Linked DNA regions of Homo sapiens. The protein of the gene in region 1 interacts with the protein of each later gene in a biochemical or structural test. Each region holds a gene or a part of one and is shown on either strand. Other genes may lie near its edges.

Region 1 (3,977 bases):
TTTTTTTTTTGAGACGGACTATCGCCCAGGCTGGAGTGCAGTGGTGTGACCTCGGCTCACTGCAACCTCCGCCTCCCAGGTTCAAGCAATTCTCCTGGCTCAGCCTCCCCAGTAGCGGGATTACAGGCGTCCGCCACCACGCCTGGCTAATTTTTTTGTATTTTTAGTAGAAACGGGGTTTCACCATGTTGGCCAGGCTGGTTTTGAACTCCTGACCTCAAGTGATCTGCCTGCCTCACCCTCCCAAAGTGCTAGGATTACACGCATAAGCTACTGCGCCCGGCTTGTGATTTGCTTTTTTCACTAATGTCTTAAGATCTTTCCAAGTCTGCCTCATGAAAACAAAGTTTATGAGAGAACAGTCATACAATACATGTAAGAATCACAGTACAGCACGGTCACGGGGAGGGGGACACTGACTGGAAAGGGAAAGGGCACAAGCAAACCTTTGTAAATATTCCGTCTTCATCTGGTGGGTGGTTTATACACACACAAAAATTCACCAGAAAGTATACTTAGGATTGGTGCACCGTCTTTTTAAATTTTTTACTTTTTCTTTTTTACCCTGTCTTATGGTGCCGAAGACTGGTGCACTTTAAAATATATGTTTGCTGCTCTGTGGTCCATTAAAAACAAAACAAAAAAATGTGTTATTCTTCTAAAAAGTTTAAAAATCTGTATTACCATGAAAGCCCATATGCTTATTACTTGGTTGAAGGGAAAAGAAATCATTGGTTTGAAAGTCTCCTATGGGGCCTCGTCATCTCCCACCTCATACTATCCTGAGTTTCTTATATCTTACTTTTTAAAACAGATTTGCCACACTTTTGCATCTCTAAACACTTTATTGATTAGTATTGTGTGATTCTGAGCGAGACTCCGTCTCAAAAGAAAAATTTGAAAAGTTGGAATTCTGATTCGAATTGCACTGACTCTATAGATCAGTCTGAGGAGATCTGACCATTTTGTAGTATTAGGCATCTTCTAACCCATGAATATTGTATATTTAATATAATACAATTTTCTCCACGGGTCGTACAGATTTTTATTTTTCTGAGACATGGTCTTGTCTGTTGCCCAGGCTGGAGTGCAGTGGTAAAATCACAGCTCACTGCAGCCGTAACCTCCCAGGCTCAAGTGATCCTCCTGCCTCAGCCACCTGAGCAGCTGGGACTACAGGTGTGCATCATCATGCCTGGTTAATTTTTTAATTTTTTTTTAAGAGATAGGGTCTCCCTGTGCAGCTCGGGCTCGTCTTGAACTCCTGGGCTCAAGCAATCCTCTCGCCTCAGTCTCCCGAAGTGCTGGGATTATAGGCATGAGCCACCATGCTTGCCTCAGATTTTAACACATTTATTTTTAAGTACTTTTATTTTCTGATACTACTATCGACAGAGTATTTTTAAAGTTACATTTTACAATTGACTTTTTGTACAGATTTTATATCTGGCAACCTTGCTAAACTCTTCATTCTAAAAATGTACCTCTGACTTTTTGGGTTTTCTACATAGATAATTATACCGCCTCTGAAGAATGATAGCTGCTTTTTCCTTCCTTTCCAGGCTGATATGTTTTATCTCCTTTTATTGTGTTACTGTGCAGACTAAACTCTCCAGCATGAGTCTGAATGCAGGTGGAGAGTAGCAGGCCACCCTTGCGTATTCCTGACCTTACAAGGGGAATGGCGGGGCGTGGCGGCTCACTCCTGTAATCCAGGCACCTTGGGAGGCCCAGGCGGGAGGATCACTTGTACCCAGGAGTTTGAGGTTGCAGTGGGCCATGATCGCACCACTGCGCTCTAGCCTGGGTGACAGGGCAAGAAAGACTGTCTGGAAAAAAAAAAAAAGGAAATAATTTCGATGTTCCACTATGAAGTATGATATGTGATGTAAGATTTTGGTAGATATCCTTCAACAGGTTAAGAAAGTTTCTTTCTGTTACCACTTCATTAAGAATTATCATCTCGTGTATTTCATATTTATACAGCTAATTGAATAACTTACAGTGATTCATTTTCTACCATTAAACCAGCAATGTATTCCTGGAATTGTCTTTTTAAATACGTTTTCAGCTGCGTTTTTTTTTTTTTTTTTTTTTTTTTTTGAGATATGATCATAGCTCACTGCAGCTTCGACCTCTTGGGCTCAAGCAATTCTCCCACCTCAGCCTCCCAAGTGGCTGGGGTTACAGGCATGTGCCACTGCATTTGGCTAATTTTTTTATTTTGTGTAGAGACAGGGTCTTACTATGTTGCCCAGGCTGGTCTTGAACTCCTCCTGGCCTCAAGCAATCCTACCACCTCAGACCTCAGCCTCCCAAAGTGCTGGGATTATAGGCATGAGCCACTGTCCCTGGCTTTTTTTTTTTTTTTTTTTTAGAGACAGGATCTTGCTATGCTGTCCAAGCTGGTCCCAAACTCAAACTCCCTGGGCTTAAGCAATCCTCCTGCCTCAGCCTCCCATGTAGCTGGGATTACAGGTACGTGCCACAACACCTGGCTGCCCTTTCTTCTTTTCTGATACGGCACGTAAAGCCTTCTAAATACCACTTTAGCCACATACCAGTTTTCATGCATATTTTCAGTTCTGTATTTCCAACAAAATTTACTCTTTAATCAACAAGTTGTTTAGAAATTTTTCTTAATTTTAAAACTATATAATCCTGTTATTCATTTTTAAACTTTTGAATTGAGGTGTAATTCACATAAAATGGAATGCCACATTTTGTTTACCCATTCATTTGTTAATGGACATTTGGGTTGTTTCTACCTTTCGGTTATTTGAATAATGTTGACACAAATATTCATGTACAAGTATTTGTTTGAATACCTGCTTTCAATTCTTTTGGGTACATACCTAGGAGTGGAATTGCTGGGTCATATGCTAATTCCGTTTAACTTTTCAAGGAATCACCAACTGTTTTCTGCAGCCACGATACCACTTTACATTCCTACCAAGCAATGCGCAAGGATTCCAATTTCTCCACATCTTTGTCAACACTTATTATTTTCCCTTTTTGTGGATTATAGCCATCCTAATGGGTATGAAATGCTATATCACTGTGGTTTTGATATGCATTTCCCTAATAACTAATGATGTTAAACATATTTTCGTGTACTTATTGGCCACTTGTACATCATGGGAAAAATGTCTACTCAAGTCCCTTTGTCCAGTTTTTAATTATTTGTCTTCTGTTGTTGAGTTATAAGAGTTTTCATATATTCTAGAAAACAGACTTTATCTGTTTTTAATATTGTTACAACTTTAATCCATCAGTTTCTCAATTTTTGCTTTTAAATCCTTAGTTTTTCTTGTATCTCTGGTAATTTTTTATTTTTATGTATTTCAAAGTATATATTTAGATATATAAAGATTCATGAGTTATAGCCTTAAACAGCATATTGTATCAATATGAAATACTTCTGCATTTTAGCGGTTTTCTCATTTTTACTTTGCACATTATGAGTACTGGCGACACTGATATTGTCACATCTTTTTTTTTTTTTAATAGTACCTCCCTCATTTAACATTCTCTTCTCCTAAGCTTCCTCCCACCTCAAATACAAAATTTCAACAAATCTTGGAAGGAGATGAGTTACCTGCACATATTTCCTCAGTTGAACCAGAAGTCCTTATGTATTTTTCAAGTCTAGACTGTGGTTTTTAAACTTTTCCAACTGTGAGTTACCATGGGAAAGCTGATGTTTGCGTAAAGCCACCAACTCCACCTGGCACCTGACCCTGGAGGGGTGTTGTGGTGAAACTCAATCACGCCACCTTTGTCTACCTGACTCATGCATTTTGTGTAATAGAGAAGAAATGACAAATTGTAAACTCTTTCAGTGAAGATAAGCCTATCTGGGACCCATTTTTTTCATCTGAATTTAAACCAAGAGAAAGAGGAATCCAATGGTTCACTTTGAGAAAACTGGAAATCCTGAGGCAGTAAGATAAAAGTATGAATCTGCCACAGTAAGT
Region 2 (3,977 bases), on another chromosome or scaffold:
CTGACTGACACTTTTTGAAGATACACATTCTGATGATGTAGAGGCCAAAATGGTATTTGATAAAGAGGAAATTACTTCTGAACCACCCCAGCTGGAAACACTGGTAGTATCGGCAGCAGATGTGATTACATCCGTTTTGGTATTACACATCGTATTTACAGCAGACATGACTGAACTGGGAACACTGCCCTGTGAGACAGCCTGAAAGTTTTTTTCAGATTTTGTGTGAACACTGTCTGAATTCACATTTGGCAAAATGATTCTTCCAGTTTCTCCGGCTTCTGCTAGTTTGAGGCAATCTGTTTTATGTGCCCCAGCTGAAGATCTTTCACTAACACGATCTTTAGAAGCTAACTGCATTGCTGGCATACTATCAGTTTTTGTACTAGAAGATGGACGCACAATGACAGATGCCATAGCAGCCTGTAACTTTCCGCTGCTTTTCTCCACATGCCATTCAGTTTTCTCTTTGCTGAGGTTATTATTAGGTCTCCACATCTCCGTCAAACTCTGTTCTGAAGAACTCTTAAAATTTGCCTGGGAGTCTTTTGGTTCGGGTATTAGAGTTGGAGGCTTCTGTGATTCTTGAACTTTACCACCAGCATTTACTGGCATCACCGGAGTTAAAGTTGGAGGGGAAAGACTACTATAGCTGCCTTCCTTTCTTTCCAGGCTGTGATGGATTGGTGGGTGAAATACTGGTGCTCTATGTAATGCAGGCATACTGCGGAGTGTATTTGTAGAAGAAACTGTCAAATGGGTAGGACTCCTACAATCATTTCTGAAGGTTGTTACTGAGTGAGATGCAATCTGATGTGGAAGATGTTCTGGTATCTTGCCTACTAAACCTTCACTTTCTGGTTGGTGTTTAATCAAAGGTGGAGGCTTTGAAAGAGATGTTATAAATGAAGTCAGAGTTTGAGGATTAGCTGCTGCCGCTGCAAGGGCATTACTCTGTTTATCACCGTAAATATTTGAAACTTCTTTGGATGGGTATGATCTTGGTGGTTCATTGACCACACTATTAGACAATGTAGTGAAATAGTTACTTTGGGGTAAACTCTGAGGCACTGAGTGCTTCATTTTATAAAGATCTGATACTGAGCGTTCTACATCCATATCTTGTTTGATGATATGGCTTTTAGGACTGGAAGATGATGATGCCACTCTGGAATAATTCTCTCTCTCACCCTCAAGTCCCTTGATTTTAGTTGTAAAGGGAGCAACATCAATACTTTCTTGAAGAATTCGACGGTGTTCCTCTTTGTATTTGTTTAACCTCTCTCCAGTCTCCTGGGGTGGCCTCTGTAACTGATTTAATACTGGATCCACAAAATGCCTATGTAAGTGACAATCTTTTCCAGTCTGTGACCTATTTAGATCCAGGTCATTTTTGGCTGATGTGGATGCAACAGACCGTAATGGTTCCATAAAAGCTTTTCTTTCTAATTCTCTGTAAAGAAAATACACAAATATTTCTGTAACCACTTTTTCCTGCAAAATACAAAGACAGCTTCTATGCAATATCATTCTATTATGAAAGTAAAAGACATCTTTGCATGTACTCTAATACTATAATAAATTTGAAGAAATATCAAAACAGAACAAAGCCTAATCTTAAGATATGTGTTAACTTAAAATTAACTATTTAAAAGGCAAATTAAGAAAAATTATGAACAAGGTATTTATAATTTTTAAGCACTGGTGAACTTACTCCTTATGATGATCTACTAAAGTTTTTGTCAATGGTGGACTGGAATGGGCTGTAATTTTAAGAGGCCGATGAGGCTCTGCACTGGAAGGTCTGACAGGAATGTGACTAAGTAATCCAATACCATCTGCTGAGGTCACAGGGGTGGGCTGATGTAGCCAAGGACTGGGAGAATTCTATTAACAAAACAAAACAAAAAAAACACCTAGATTTCAGTTACTAGAAAAAGCTAAACACCGTGTCACAGTAGAACTGGGTATGATCTTGGTGGTTTATTAGTTCATTCAAATAGCAGTTTCTTTGGGAAACTTGTAACTTTTTCTAAATACATCTTATGAGAAATATTCAGACAAATAATAACATAATTAAACAGATTTTTCCATATCATAATCAGTATTAAATAATTTATTGTCATCTTACTAAAAACAGATCTTGAAATCAGTGCCTTAAATTTACTATAAATGCCATATACAGAACCTAGTTTATATGATTTCCTGATTCTAACAGCAAAAGTATATTGCTAACAGTAAAAACAGAATATTATTCCTAAAACACATTTCATCAGAAATAGAAATTATAACCAAATTCATTTGTCAATTTTTGTCATCAAAAAATTTAACTTTTCCAATGTAACAATTTACTGACAATTGGCAGATAATTACATTTCAAAACCCAAATGCACTCCCCATTTCACTCTAAGCTATAAACAAGGTTGCACCATTAAGCTTGGAGGTGTAGAAGTCTAATAAAGTTAATTTTATACATCAATATGCTGCCTGTCTCATGACTGAATATAAGGTGACAGCAACCTCTTCATCGAGACATACAGCTATCTGACTACATGCTTAAGGATTTTTCTATATTCTGACTCACTGACATCCTTCCAGAACATGTTTTATGAATTTGTTAATAGGATGATAGTCAAATAGCAGGAAAATACAACCTCCTTTGTATTTTCTCTAACAAAGGGAATACGTTTTACTTCTCAAAATAATGCAAAAGCAGTATGTCACACCAAAAATATACTGCTATGAAATTAAAAACATACACTATAGCCATAAACCCCACATAAGAGAAAAATACATAAATATACACATAAGGATCAAATATGTGTCTCAAACGGCCTCAGTTCTATAAGATCCAGAAATCTTAAACAGCAATCAATTATGGCAATGACAACAAAGTTTTGCTCTATAAAATGCCATTCAAAATTATTTCTCAATAATAGTGTCTTATGCTTGTATTGTTTCTTCACTTTTGGTCAATAGTAGGGGGTAAGATATTTTTATTTTTCCTCAAAATGTTATTCAAATTTACTCCTTTATGTTGTAATTTTATATAACAAATAAAAATCTGATACACTTGTTTTTAGTTTAACACATTTATGACCAGTTAATAAAATATTTTATGTACTTATAAACACAGAGGCTAGACAGTCATGGTCTAAGTCCATATACATGTGACACATACTGAGTATTGCTCCCTTCCAAGCCATTTTTAAGTTACTTAAATCTGTTTTCAAGAGTTTGGATGTTAAGGAAAAAGACACAAATCTGTTAGCCAGCTCTTGGCTCTCCTGTGTTCCTCTAGCTAGCTTATCTTTGTGCAGCTGCAGCTACATTAATGACGTGAGAGTGAAGGGTCAGAATAAACATGTGAGTGCAACAATAAAAATAGAAACCTTGAATTAATAATCTGAGTACAGTAGGGCACTTGGGTCACCAGGCCTGCTTTCTATTCTGGTAAAGAGGATAATATAGTGATTAGTGATTCTTCACTGAGTTTGACTATGTAACACACAGGTTCCAGTATGACTCCCATCTACGACAAAAGCAACGGCACCCTCCAAAATGGTAATGGAAAGCTTGTGATCAATGGCAGCATAATTCTGGAACTGAGATCTTGTCAACCTCAAATGTGGTGATGCTGGTGCAGAATCAACTGTGGGCATCACTGGTGAGACTTCATTAAAGGCCAAAGGTCATATGAAAGTAGAGCCAAAAGGAGTCCATGTTTGCAACAGGAATAAACCACAGGAAACATCTTTCAAAACTGGTAGACCTTATGCAAGATGCATCATCAACCACTTGGTGCCTCTTATCATCAAAGTTCACCCATCACATGGTTGGGCATGGTGGCTCATGCCTGTAATCCCAGCACTTTGAGAGGCCGAGACAGGCGGATCACTTGAGGTCAGGAGTTCGAGACCAGCCTGGCCAGCATAGTGAAACCTCGTTTCTACTAAAAATACAAAAAATTAGCCAGG
Region 3 (3,977 bases), on another chromosome or scaffold:
GGATATCTCATTATATTGACACTATTCTTAAATTTTTCTTTTAGGTTTGATTATAATACTTTTTTTAAAAAAAGAATTATGTTTTAGTTAAAAACTGAAATATTAACAGATGAATAAGATGTCTGGGATGCTCCAAAATAATCTAAGAAAGGGGAGTAGTTAGAAATGAGTAAAATTGAAAGTGTTGCAGCCAGATGACGGAAACATGGAGTTTCACTATATTATTCTTTTATACACATCTACAATTGTCCACAGCAAAAAAAATTTTAAAATATCCTCTACATGCTCACTTTTGGCAAATGCAATTTATGGCATGAAAGGGTAAGTTCCAGATGAAATAAGTGATTATGAAAAAGGATTTCCCTAGAATGAGGAGGTAAGATAAAGATGGTAGCTGGTAACAGTTTGGTTACGTATCGCTGCCCAAATGTCATGTCAAATTTTAATCCTCAATGTTGGAGGTAGGGCCTGGTGAGAAGTAACTGGATCATGAGGTGGGTTTCTCATGCATGGTTTAGTACCACTTTCCTTGGTACTGCTATCCTAGCAACAGTGAGTGAGTTCTCATGAGATCTGGTCATTTAAAAGTGTGTGGCATCTTCCCCTTTACTTTCTCTTGCTCCTGCTATGTAGGACATCCCTGCTTCCCCTTCACCTTCTGCCATCATTCTAAGTTTACTGAGGCCTCTTCAGAAGTCAAGCAGATTCCAGTACCACACTTCCTGTAAAGCCTGCATAATTGTGAGCCAATTAAATCTCTTTTCTTTATAAATTATGCAGTCTCAGGTATTTTATAGCAATGCAAGAATGGACTAATAATACAGTGGGGTTAAAAGTAGAAATGGGTTGTTATAATTTTTTTTTCCAAATTCATCCATTCATTTACTCAGTCAACCAAAAAACATTTAAGTATCTGCTATAGACCAGGAACCATTCTAAATGTTGGAGACACAGCAACGAACTAAAAACAAAAAAATCCCTGCCCTCACGAACTTACATTCTAATACAATGAAACAAAAATAAATTACGTTGGAACAAGGTTTCTCATCTTGGTGACATTTTAGGCTGGTTAATTCTTTGTTGTAGGAGTTTGTCAAGTGCATTGTAGGTCATTAGCAGCATCCCTGGCCTTCACCTTCTAGATGTCAGTGGCCTCCTCGAGTTACAACAACAAAAATATCTCCATACATCCCCAAACATCCCTTGAGGGGACAAAATGGTCTCCAGTTGAGAAACACTGAGTTAAAAAGTAAGTGTTACGGAGAAAAATAAAGCATTGAAGGAGTTTAGGAAGTAACCTGAGGGTGACAATGTTTATAATGTTAAATAGGACAGCTGGGGAAGAGTCCTTCAGGTATAGAAGTTTTGAGGCAGAAAGATGAGGGCTTATTTGAAGACCTATGAAGAAGTACAGCTACTGTAGCTGGAACAGAGGAAATAAGGAAGAAAGTAGGAAATCCACAGAGCATTTAATAGGAAACACCTGAGCCATGTTAAAACAATAATAAAAAAATCACCTAGGGGATTACTTCTGGTTGTAGCCAAGTAAGTTCCTGTAAGACTGACCCTCCTGCAGGTAAAATAAACTTTAGGGGGAAAAAATACAAACACACACACAACACACCAGAACTATATGCAGGCAATAAAAAATGAACGAAAAAAGCAGGTAGATTCTTGAGAGAAGTTAAAATGGGGAAGCACGGAGTATCAAGGGTCTAATTCCAGTTTACTGTAGCTTTTAGCCTGAGAGAAGCCATCCCAGGCAGCTAAACCTCCAATGAAACCATCTTTTTGGCCTGAAGAATCAGAATTAGAGTTCAGGGAAAGCAAAGCTGCTAGAAAGTGAGGGAATGCTGGAAAGGAAACAGCCAGAGAGGAGGAGCCCCGAATTCTGTATATTGAAATCTCTGGCTAACCCTTGAAAACCACTCATGTACAGGGCAGATTCCAAGCTGCCCAGCAAAGGAGACCTGAAGGACTCTTCCATGGCTGTCCTAAATGATCAGAAAACTGAGGTGAGATCTGAGTTAACATCCAAAAGACAGCATTTGCAGTTTGAGTCCAGTTAAATTAAATGCCTGATTAAAAACAAAACAAAACAAAACAAAAAAACCAAATCAATGCTCTTTGGAGGAGTATAACATTATTCAGAGTCTCCACAGCATAATATTCCAATGCCCAGAATGCAATAAAAAATTATTTGATACACAAAGAGGAAAATGTGATCCAACCTCAAGAAAATATACCTATCAAGAGAATCCAACCCTGAGATGACTCAGATGTTAGTAGTAGTAGGCAAGGATTTTAAAGCAGCTATTAGAATTAAGCTTCATGACATAAAAGAAATCCATATTTATATTACAAACATACACTTATAACGAATGAAAAGAAATGCCACCAGAGAAAACATACAGAAAAGAATAAGCTGGAGATTTTAAAAGTGAAAAAGGTAGTGTCTGAAATACACTGGGTGGGCTTAGCAAAATGGAAGGGACAGAAAAAACTATCAAAGAATCTGAAGATAATCAATAAAAATTATTCAATTTGAGAAACAGTGGAAAAAATGATAGGAAAAAAAAAAGAGAGCCTCAGGGACCTGTGGGATATCAAGTCTTTATAAATATAAACACCAAGAGGAAAGAAGAAAAAATAAAACAAAAAATATCTTAAATAATAGCTAAGTCTCTCAAAGTTGGTGAAATACATAAATCTATGGATTCAATAATCTCAGCAAACCTTGAACAAGTTAGAACACACACATACAAAAAAACCCATGCCCGGTCACAACACAAAATACTAAAAACCAAAAATAACAGGAAAAGATCTTAAAAACACAGACTACCACATTACATATGGGAGAGAGTGATTTGATTATAGCTGACTTCTTACAGAAAACAGCAAGTAGACAGTGTCATATTATCTTTAAAGCCTATCTGGTCTCTGGCTGGACTCAGTGGCTCACGCCTGTAATCCCAGCACTTTGGGAGGCCAAGGCGGGCAGATAACCTGAGGTTGGGAGTTGGAGACCAGCCTGACCAACATGGAGAAACCCCGTCTCTACTAAAAATACAAAATTAGCCGGGCATGGCGGCACATGCCAGTAATCCCAGATACTCCTGCCTGAGGCAGGAGAATCGCTTGAACCCGGAGGCAAAGGTGGCGGTGAGCCGAGATCATGCCACTGCACTCCAGCCTGGGCAACAAAAGCGAAACTCCATCTCAAAAAAAAAAAAAAAAAGTACATCTGGTCTTCAATCCCATTTCCCTGGCATAGAAATCCTAAATCCTTATAATCTCCTAAGTGGAGACTTTCTGTATGCTAACGAGTTGACTGCTGGCTGGCAGGCCCTAGGTAGCTTCAGGTGTGGGGGGATGGTCACCAGAACCACCAAGGAAAGATTAGAGGGCTGAAACTTTCGGTCCCACCTCCCAGCCTCTGGGGAAGTGAGAAGGGCTGAAGGTCAAGTCACCAATGGCCAACGATTTAATCAATACTGAATAATGAAGTTTCCATAAAAACCAAAGGACAGGGTTTGGAGGGCTTCCAAATGGCCGAACAGGTGGAGGTTCCTGAAGAATGGTGTTCGAGGCAGGGCATGGGAGCTCCCTGCTGCCTCCGCCATATCTTGCCCTACTTATTTCACCAACTGTATTTTGTAGTATTCTTTATAATAAACTGGTAAATGTAGGTTTTCCTGAGTTCTGTGAGCCACACTAGCAAATTAACTGACCCCAAAGAGGCAGTCATGAAAACCATAACTTGAAGCTAGTCAGTCAGAAGTTCTAGAGGCCCAGACTTGCAAGTGGTGTCTGAAGGGGCTGGGGAGTCTTGTGGGACTGAGTCCTCACCCTGTGGAGTCTGACGCTATCTCCAGGTAGTGTCAGAGTTGAACTGGAGGATACCCTGCTAGTGACTGCTGCAGAACTGATTGCTTGCTTGGGGTGTGTGGAAAAAGTCCCCCACCTCCACCCCACAT
Region 4 (3,977 bases), on another chromosome or scaffold:
TTCATGGTTAACTCTTGGGAGCTCTCCCCATTTGTTCTCAACATTTTCAGAGGTTCTGCATGTCCCGGACACTAGGTTAAGTAATAAGGATGACCACATTAATAAGATATGGACCCTCAAGGAGTTTATTCTGATGGAGAGGCAGACAAGTAAAGAGATAATCAAAACGAATCAACTACAAGCAGTTTGGTGTCACTGGCTTATGGAGTACAAGGCAGGGAGTGGAGATGGACAGGGGCCACCTCTCAATCTCTTAACTCATTAGCACTCTTCATAATGCAGAATGCTTGAGGAAATAGTTGCTGATACAACAAATGGAAAACATGCAGAGAAAATGACCATGAAAACTGTCAAGAGGATTCTAGAATGACACCCTCTCTCACCTCCAAATTAGGAATCTTGTGCCGAAAGCAGGTAATGAAGACCACAAAAGGCCAGTCGTCAGGCTGCATCATCACACCGGCAGCCTGGGCGCAGCTCACATGGAAGGCAGTTGGGCAGCGGCCGTGAGAACACTGCACACAGCAGCCAGCAGTTCTTTTCCTCCGCTTCTTACAGAAGATACATTTCTGTAGCACAGGGGAAGAAAACCAGTGATTGCAGGAACTGGCACTGCAGCTTCCTCTGTTGTTCCCCTCCCAAATGCAAAGCCAAGCAAGCAAGAGCCAGCCCCTTCCCAAAATACAAGGACACACCAGCCTGCTCTAATCCAGGTCTGGTTACAACTTTATCTGCCAAGGAAATTTTTTTTTTTTTTTTTTTGAGACGGAGTCTTGCTCTGTCACCCAGGCTGGAGTGCAGTGACACAATATCGGCTCACTGCAACCTCCGCCTCCCGGGTTCAAGTGATTCTCCTGCCTCAGATTCCCGAGGAGCTGGGATTATAGGTGCGCACCACCACTCCCAGCTAATTTTATATTTTTAGTAGAGTCGGGGTTTCACCATGTTGCCCAGGCTGGTCTTGAACTCCTGACCTCAAGTGGTTCACCCACCTCGGCCCCACAAAGGGCTGGGATTACAGGTGTGAGCCACCACACCTGGCCTCCACTAAGGAATCTAACCACAGAGTGAGAATCACAAACTCTAACCAAAACCAAGGGGTACAGGAGGTCCCTGTTCTCTTCTACCCAGAAACTTGTAAGTCGGGAAATTATGTAGAGTCTACAAGCCCTTACCAGTTTGAAGCGGGGCAGGGGGATTTTGCTCACATCCACCGGACTTCTTTCTGCAATGTTGACAAACCTTGCTTCCAGAATTGCCACAGCACATGAAACGTGGACCCACCTGCCAAAAGGCAAAGGCTCCCTCAGTCACCTCTGGGCCCAAGGCTCTGTGGCCTTCTCTTTTGGGCCTGCTGACAGCGCTTCCTCCCTCACCTGGGTGACCACTGACTTCCACCAGCACATGCCTGGGACCCAGGAAGGTGAGAACCAGAACCGTCTCTCCTCTGAGTATGTGGAAGCAGTGCCACCCCCACTGCCCACCTAGGCCACTGCCCACTGCCCTAGGTTAGCACCGGATCATGCTTCTTACACCACTCTGTTGAAAAATGAACAGAGCTGCAGGCTAATGGTGTGTGGCAGGTCTCAGGGAGTGAGAATAAACTGGAAAGCTCTATGCAGACCTCTTTACCATAGGACCCAAGTGCTTCCTGAAAACGTCCCCGGCTGTGCCCTAATCTGCCAGTAATCACAGCTCTCTCTCGGCCTCTGCCCAAACCTCTCCCCCAGGCTGAAATGACCTCTCCCTTCTGCTCCCTTTTTCCATAGCTGACTCACTCTTTAATCTTTAAGGTCTGACCCAAGCCCCACTTACTCTGAGAGGTCTATTCAACGGACATCCTTAAGAATTAAAGTAAGTTTTGGACATTTTGGGAAACCAGCATGCATCAAGAGGAGAAGAACGAAAATGGTGACAACTCTTAAAACCATGCTACGTGAAAACCTACACCAGACAACACTGGGGCTCCATGGAAGCTCTCTGCAGTTCTAGTGGGGCTGTCTTTTTAGAGTGGGAACAGATTTGTTCTGTGTGGCCCTGGAGGGCAGAACAGGCATTCAGAGGTAAAGGTGAGAGATTCAAGCACAGCCATTTCCACTCCAAATAAGAAAGAATGTTCCCAGCACTATCCTGTGACTGTGAGGAACCCAGTGACCTCAAATAATGGCAGCAAGTGCCTTTGAAGGAGCAGAAGCAGCAGGCAGAGTAGCTATCTCTCAGGGACAGCATAACTGGGACTCTTGAGGGCAGGCGGCTGGACTGAACATATGCTGCAAGTTGCCACGGGATTCTACTTGGAAGCAGGATACTCAGCACTGACCTGCACGCACCATGCCCTAGACAGCTAGCTCTTCCAGGTCAGAAACCTCATTCATCTTACGTTTCCACCTCAGAGCAACCAAACACAAGCCTAAGCACAAAGATTCACTCCATGAAAACGAGCTGCCCAACAGCTGAGAAGCCCAGAAAATTCAGCAGATTCGGTTCCATAGTGGGTGGGCCTGTCTGAGCTCTCCTCAGTGTCCTCCTTGAGCACACTCGCCTCATTCCAAACAGCAGGTCTGAGCCAGGGAGTTTGCCATGTGGAGAAGTGCTTGCTAGCCTGTGGCCGCCTCTGCATACCAGCCCCAGCTGTGACAAGGTGAATGTCCTCACTCCAGCCCACACAGTCCCTGCGCATCATCTTCGTCTTCATATTCTCATGAGTCCATTCTTAGCTTCTCCAAAGGAGGATGTCACTGACATCTCTGCTGCAGAGGAGCAGCTGGAGTTGGAAAGTCTGGGACTGCTTGGCTCCCTTAGCATTCCATTTTTAAAATGAGTCTTGGAGATGCTATTCCTGCTCCACACGATGTGCTTCCCAAATCCTCATCAGTCATTCAGAAGAACAGCTAGTACCCTCACAAAGACACTGTGTGCTTCGGAACTGAGCCTGTGCATTCCAAGGCACTGCTCAGGAAACTTACCTGTCATCATTTGCTCTCTGCAGGGCCCCTCCTCGTAATGAGCATAAACAGCAGTCCTGCCAAGAAAGGAGAGGGAGGAAAAAGTGGTTAATACCAAGTCATTAACATTCAATCTGCTCTCCCCTGGACCTGCTTTGGGCAACTCCTCCACATAAGAAAGAAGCATAATAGCATGTGGGGCTTCACCCAGGCAGCCCCTGCACCAGGACGCCCTGTCAGAAGGAGAGGCCACTCAGGGCTAAAGTGTGCCAAGTAGTCACGTGACTTCACATAATCCTCTTCATTGTTGCTGCTAATAACAACTCTTAGCAAAGTCACAAAAGATACTTTGCTCAAACTAGAGGCATGACAGGGCTCTGACTGCTTCTTATATGGGCTAGGTACAGCCAGGTTCCAGGGGGTACAGTGAAGAGAAAACAGCACAATGAATCATCTGAGCCCCTTTCTGAGGCTCCAATTCAAAATGGCTAAATTCTTTTAAGGGAGTTATTGTTCCTCCACAGGAAGACCACTAGTTGGTCTTTCCACAATGGAGCAAACACAGCATCCAGACTCCGTAAGTGGGCAGCAACCATTCTCACGGTCATAGGATTTACTCTCACAATACTCGCTCTCTGACATCACCGCGTACCAGACCCTATGCAGACTGCTGGGAATACTGAGTCCAACATGAAATCGTCTGGCCCTGAATATGCACCAAGACTCATGGTGAAGACAGTAACAGTGTGGGATCACTCACCTCCTCTAGGGCATTGGCTGAACACCGAGAACACATCCAGTCTTCAGAAGCCTTTGCAGGGGGGACCCCATAGCAACCTAACAGGGACACCAAGATGAGCAAATTAAACCCAGTGGTCAGAGTCAAAAGGTAGATTTGCAATTCCTTTCCATATACCACCTCCCAAAGCTACAACCAAATCTCACAGAAACCCCTTAGTTTTCTTTAGTCTGAGTCCCCAGGGCTCAGGCATACAGTATGGCTCAAAGTCTCAAAAAGTCAAAAACTGTAGA

Evidence for each region. The genes of interacting proteins can lie anywhere in the genome.
Region 2: the proteins of RNF168 (region 1) and JMJD1C form a complex in vitro, tested with the Homo sapiens proteins (one study listed by BioGRID).
Region 3: of the proteins of RNF168 (region 1) and DHX9, one has a biochemical effect on the other in vitro, tested with the Homo sapiens proteins (one study listed by BioGRID).
Region 4: of the proteins of RNF168 (region 1) and KDM4A, one has a biochemical effect on the other in vitro, tested with the Homo sapiens proteins (one study listed by BioGRID).

What each region holds. Positions count from the first base shown.
Region 1 is NC_000003.12:196,479,607-196,483,583, forward strand, and holds part of RNF168 (E3 ubiquitin-protein ligase RNF168), read right to left. Parts: intron 1-3,977. UniProt on the Homo sapiens protein: E3 ubiquitin-protein ligase required for accumulation of repair proteins to sites of DNA damage. Acts with UBE2N/UBC13 to amplify the RNF8-dependent histone ubiquitination.
Region 2 is NC_000010.11:63,207,349-63,211,325, forward strand, and holds part of JMJD1C (probable JmjC domain-containing histone demethylation protein 2C), read right to left. Parts: intron 1,888-3,977; coding exon 1,715-1,887; intron 1,454-1,714; coding exon 1-1,453. UniProt on the Homo sapiens protein: Probable histone demethylase that specifically demethylates 'Lys-9' of histone H3, thereby playing a central role in histone code. Demethylation of Lys residue generates formaldehyde and succinate.
Region 3 is NC_000001.11:182,845,499-182,849,475, reverse strand, and holds part of DHX9 (ATP-dependent RNA helicase A), read right to left. Parts: intron 1-3,977. UniProt on the Homo sapiens protein: Multifunctional ATP-dependent nucleic acid helicase that unwinds DNA and RNA in a 3' to 5' direction and that plays important roles in many processes, such as DNA replication, transcriptional activation, post-transcriptional RNA regulation, mRNA translation and RNA-mediated gene silencing.
Region 4 is NC_000001.11:43,691,301-43,695,277, reverse strand, and holds part of KDM4A (lysine-specific demethylase 4A), read right to left. Parts: intron 3,783-3,977; coding exon 3,706-3,782; intron 3,023-3,705; coding exon 2,967-3,022; intron 1,285-2,966; coding exon 1,176-1,284; intron 570-1,175; coding exon 384-569; intron 1-383. UniProt on the Homo sapiens protein: Histone demethylase that specifically demethylates 'Lys-9' and 'Lys-36' residues of histone H3, thereby playing a central role in histone code. Does not demethylate histone H3 'Lys-4', H3 'Lys-27' nor H4 'Lys-20'.